Linked DNA regions of Homo sapiens: region 1 is linked to region 2. The links come from fine-mapping of genetic effects on gene expression. Tissue or cell type: lung. Region 2 holds a variant in brackets; the other region holds the start of a gene. All regions are shown on one strand. Distances are between the middles of the regions.

The links. PIP is the estimated chance that this variant, and not a neighbour inherited with it, causes the effect.
Region 1: it holds the start of TSPAN4, and the variant in region 2 is fine-mapped to the expression of TSPAN4 in lung (TOPMed, PIP above 0.99). The same link has a PIP of 0.9 or more in fibroblasts, nasal epithelium, pancreas, testis, tibial artery and tibial nerve.

Annotation. Positions count from the first base shown.
Region 1 is chr11:841,316-843,815 of GRCh38, forward strand. TSPAN4 (tetraspanin 4) reads left to right here and starts at 1,537. Exons shown (of 9, transcript NM_003271.5): 1 at 1,537-1,600. It overlaps POLR2L (RNA polymerase II, I and III subunit L), which reads right to left and starts at 1,214. Exons shown (of 2, transcript NM_021128.5): 1 at 1,099-1,214. The coding sequence starts at 1,193. RefSeq lists enhancers at 1-217, 218-963, 964-1,707 and silencers at 976-1,605, 1,716-1,805, 1,826-2,055, 2,041-2,209.
Region 2 is chr11:865,739-868,487 of GRCh38, forward strand. It overlaps TSPAN4 (tetraspanin 4), which reads left to right. Exons shown (of 9, transcript NM_003271.5): 7 at 1-87; 8 at 180-263; 9 at 824-1,373. The coding sequence ends at 892. CHID1 (chitinase domain containing 1) reads right to left here. Exons shown (of 13, transcript NM_023947.4): 13 at 2,121-2,749. Among named protein-coding and RNA genes, the nearest start is that of TSPAN4, 24 kb to the left of the region's middle. RefSeq lists an enhancer at 125-658. The variant T/G (reference allele first, on the strand shown) is at 1,182.

The DNA of each region.
Region 1 (2,500 bases), 25 kb before region 2:
GGCACCAAGACTCAGGCACCGTGGTGACAGCAGCACCAAGGGACAAGCACAGGAGAAAGACGCCTCCCCTACAAAGCCTGATGAGGGTGGTCAGCAAGTCTACCCTGCATTTCTTTTTCTGTGTGTGTGTGTGCGTGAGACGGAGTTTCACTCTCTCTTCCAGGCTGGAGTGCAGTGGCGTGATCTTGGCTCACTGCAACCTCCACCTGCCTCCCAGACTCAAGCGATTTTCTCGTCTCAGCCTCCCAAGTAGCTGGGACCACAGGTGTGCACCGCCATGTCCGGCGAATTAAAAAGATAGAGCCAGGCGCGGTGGCTCACGCCTGTAACCTCAGCACTTTGGGAGGTCGAGGCGGGTGGATCACCTGAGGTCAGGAGTTCCAGACCAGCCTGGCCAACATGGCGAAATCCCATCTCTACTGAAAATACAAAAATTAGCCGGGCGTGGTGGCACACGCCTGTAGTCCCAGCTACTCGGGAGGCTGAGACAGGAGAATTGCTGGAGCCCAGGAGGCGGGGGTTGCAGTGAGCCGAGATCGCGCCACTGCACTCCAACCTGGGCGACGGAGCGAGACTCCGTCTCAAAAAAGAAAAATAAAATAAAATAAATTTCTGGAGATCAGGGTCTCCCCAGGTTGTCCAGGCTGGTCTCGACCTCCTGGGCTCAAGCAAGCCTCTCGCCTCGGCCTCCCAAACTGCTGGGATTACAGATGTCAGCCGCCGCGCCCGCCCGTCCTGCAGCGAGGTTTGCAGGACATGGGGTGGGCCTGGGGGCAGAGATGGGAATAGGGCGGAGGCCAAGGGCTTTACTGCGGGTGACAAGACGCCTGCGACCCGCCAGGCCACCTAGAATCCCCAGGACACCACTGGTTTGAAGCCCAACTCCGTTCTCTTCCCCAGACTTCAGGGGATAAGGTTCTCCCGAAAGCAGATCACAGAGCGGGGCTGGAGAAGCCGGGCCTGAAGCTGCTCATGGGGCGCTGGCCTCAGGCAGCGCTGCGCCTCCCGCCCCGGCGCGCACCCCAGGGCGGACTCAGCCCCCAGCCCCGGCCCGCGCCCCACGGCGGACTCAGCCCCTAGCCCCGGCCCGCGCCTCACCCCTCGGTGTACTCGGCCTGCAGCAGCCCCAGGTAAGCCTCCCACTTGTTGCCGACGATCTTGCCACAAGTGAAGCAGCGTACAGGGATGATCATGGCGGCGGCGCGTCCCAGACTGCCCGGCCCGGCCCGGCCGCACGCGAAGAACCCCCCCAGGCCCCGCCCCGGGCGCGTCCACTGTTGCGGGAGAATCGGCTCCGCTCGTTCTCCGCTGTTCCGGCCGTCCCTCCACCGGCCCCGCCACCGCTGGCCGCAGTTTCCGCCGCGATAGGGGCTTCCCGTGCGTCCCGGGGCTCCTGGGCCTGTGCGTCCCGGGGCTCCCGGGCCCGCGCGGCCGCGGCAGCAGCAGACCGCACACCCCCGCCCACCGTCTTGGTGCATCCCGGCGCTACGGCGTCTGAGCAGGGCCGTAAAGCTGCGGCGGCGGTTCGCGTTTCTCGTGTCCGCTTGACTGACAGCTGCGCGGCGGGAGCGGGCGGCGCGAGCGGGAGGCGGCGGCGCAGGTACTGCGCCTGGGGGTTGTGGGGGCGTGCGGCCAGGGTCCCGTGGCCGGAGGTGTCCGACCGGGAGCGGCTGGAGCCGGACGCGAGCGGGGCGCGCGAGTTCGAGCCCAGAGCCGACACGCAGCAACAAGTGGGGTCCGGCGCGGGGGCTCGGGGAGAGGGCGGGCGGGGGCCGGGGCGGGTCTTCCTGCCGCCCCTCCTGGCCGCGCCGAGTAGTGGGTTCCTCCGCCTCGGCCTCTGCCCGCGGGGTGTCCGGGGCTCTCGGCGCTGAGTTCGGGGGTCCCATTCTGGACGCGGCCCAGCCCCTAGGGGCGCCGCCCTGGCCTCAGCTGCGCAATTACAGCCCCCGCCGGCAGCTCCCCGCCCCGGGCTCCTGTCCGCGTTCTTTCCGCTCTTTCCCGGGAATGGGGTCGGGGTGCGCCCTCCCGGGTCCCGGCTCTGCTGGCTGCTCGCCGTCCCGAGCTCCCGACGCTCAGACGCGCCTCTGAGCACGGGGAGAGGGGACCCGGGAGGGAGGTCGGGGAGGGAGTCGTGGAAGAGGTGCTTTTTGAGCTGAACCTGGAAGACCCCGGCACAGGGGATCCCTGGGCAGACTCCCGGAGGCTGCACTGGCAGGACCCCCTGAAGGCCTCAGCTCTGGCTTGCCCTGGAGCTCAGGGCCTACGGACGACGAGGGACGAGGAGCCCGTGTCTCTCGGATGGAGTGCGGGGGGGCTGGCACCAGCACCCTTCTTGCTGTGCCCCTGGGGTGGGGGTGAGGAAATGGGGGGTCGGTGTGCAGTGAGAGGCAAAGAAGGCTCCTTGGAGGTGCGAGGTGGGCTGTGGGGGTGGGTGGGCCGCAAAGCGGCACCCATGGGGGGCTCTGGGCTGGTTTGCCGGCCTGGGGCTTCTGGCTGGGGT
Region 2 (2,749 bases):
TACAACGCCACGCGGGTACCTGACTCCTGCTGCTTGGAGTTCAGTGAGAGCTGTGGGCTGCACGCCCCCGGCACCTGGTGGAAGGCGGTGAGTGAGACCCCCACCCTGGGGGCTGGTAGGGGCCTAGAGGGCGGGACCAGCAGGCCCTGCCGTGACACGCATGACATCCCTCCCTGCAGCCGTGCTACGAGACGGTGAAGGTGTGGCTTCAGGAGAACCTGCTGGCTGTGGGCATCTTTGGGCTGTGCACGGCGCTGGTGCAGGTATGGCCTGGGGGCCTGCGGGCTCCCTGCCCCCACTTTGTTAGGACCTTCTGAGCCCAGGGAACAAAGTAGCAAAGACCTTGCCCCCAGGAACCCACGATCGGGGGAGGCCGGGGCAAAAGCAGGAGGGCGAGTTCAGGGGGATGGGCAGGGACGGCCTGTGGGGACAGTGGGCTCCCTCTTAGTGGACAGAGGCAGAGGCTGGTGTGGGGTGGAGGCCGGTGGTCGTCCATGTTGGTCGGTGGCCCAGGACTGGCCAGTGCACAGAGGGTGGCAGCTGGGGCCCTGGTGCCAGTGGCCCCTGGTTTCCAAACTCCACAGCCCTCAGGAAGTTCTGGGTGTCCTCATGCCTGCAAGGCTCAGGGGAGGGTGCTGTGGCTCGAGCCACAGGGGTTGGGTGGGGCGTGCAAGCCACCAGGAAGCTGAAGGGCTCTGCCACTGTGTCGCCCACCCTGGGGTCGGGGTCAGGGCCAGGGCACCTGCTGAGGACAGGGACTGCTCTGGGCTTGAGGCCTGAGCCTGTGGAGCTGCCATGCCCAGTCCTCCTCCCCTACCTACAGATCCTGGGCCTGACCTTCGCCATGACCATGTACTGCCAAGTGGTCAAGGCAGACACCTACTGCGCGTAGGCCGCCCACCGCCCGCTTCTCTGCCAAAAGGACGCCCACGGGGAGATGGCCGCACCCACAGCTGCCTTTCCCACCACCAGCCTCGGTGCTCTGCCCCATGCTGGGAGGAGGGAGGGAGGGACAGGTGCCTGGAGCCCCCGGAACCCTGTTTCTGGAAGGCCCTAGCTCAGGTGGCTTCAGGGCCTCCGGACCCCCCCTGGGAGGGGTGGCCACGTGCTGGCTGCGGAACCCAGGGCAGGGGTGGGAGGGGCCTCCAGCACTTTTTATATTTACGTATTCTCCAAAGCAG[T/G]GTTCACACGGGAGCCAGCCTGTGGCCCCCAGCCTCCTGGAAAACAGGTTGGCGCTGGAGGAGCCGGGTCTTGGCATCCTGGAGGTGGCCCCACTGGTCCTGGTGCTCCAGGCGGGGCCGTGGACCCCTCACCTACATTCCATAGTGGGCCCGTGGGGCTCCTGGTGCATCTTAATAAAGTGTGAGCAGCAACCTTGCGTCTATTGCTCGTCTGCCTTCCCTACCCTATCTTCCCTTCTGGCACCCAGGCCTGGGGCAGGGCAGCCTCTGGCATGAACGGTGCTTAGGCAGAGCCCTGGGGCTGTGGGGTCACCTGGTGCACAGGCTTGGGGGAGCTGCCTGCAGAGCAGTCTCCAGACCTCTGGTTTTAAGGAAATCATGACATTAGCTCTAAGAAGTGATGAGGCCGGGTGCAGTGACTCACACCTGTAATCCCTTCGGCTTTGGGAGGCCAAAGTGGGTGGATAACCTGAGGTCAGGAGTTTGAGACCAGCCTGGCCAACATGGTGAAACCCTGTCTCTACTAAAAATAAAAAATTAGCCGGGCGTGGTGGCGGGCGCCTGTAATTCCAGCTACTTGGGAGGCTGAGGCAGGAGAATCGCTTGATTCCAGGAGATGGAGGTTGCAACGAGCCGAGATCGCACCACTGCACTCTAGCCTGGATGACACAGGAAGAGTCCATCTCAAAAAAAAAAAAAAAAAAAGTAATAAAAAATAAAGTGCCAAGGCCCCTGGGGGGCCGTCCCTGAACTGCCAGCCTTTGCTAGGGGTGGCCTCCCTCTGCTTCACCCCCCCACCCCGGGGGCTCCTCCTGAGGCGGGCCTCCCTCCACATCGCCCCCTACCCTGGGGCCTGCTGTCGAGGCGGGGCTGTGCTTTTCCCCTATTTTGTTCCTAGAACTCTGCCCCTTTAAGTGAGCTGGCAGCACAAAGCACCTGTCACAGGGCATGAAAAAAAATGCATCAAGGTGCCTCAGGATTCTCACAGCCAGGGGTGAGGGTTGTGTGGGGACCCTGGCCACAGGGATGACGGTCAGTTCAGGTTGGGGCATCTGATCCCCAAACTGCACCCCACAATCTCATTTCCAGCTAATTCCTGCCCCACCCTCTGCCCATCCCCCCGGGAGACACAGCCCGCTCTAGACATCCCATCCTGTGTGGCATCCCCACCCCTGCCTCCACCCAATGCTGATCTGGCAATGCCTAGCTCCAGGCCCACACCACCCTCCCAGACCTGCGTGTCCCCCACCCTCACTCCAACAGAAGCCACAGGACCCCCGAGAACAACTTGAATGTTAGCGTCAGCACCTCTGGGGAGACAAGGTCAGTGCCCCAAAGCCAGTGGCAGCTTGTGTTTTTTTAGACAAGGTTTTTGGAGTGCAGTCGGTCACAGCTCACTGCAGCCTCAACCTCATCAAGCGATCCTCCCATCTCAGCCTCCTGAGTAGCCAGGAGTACAGGCACATGCCACCATGTCTTGCTAATTTTTCTATTTTTAGGGGGTAGAGACGGGGTTTCACCATGTTGCCCAGCGTTCCTCCCGCCACGGCTTTCCAAAGTACTGGGAT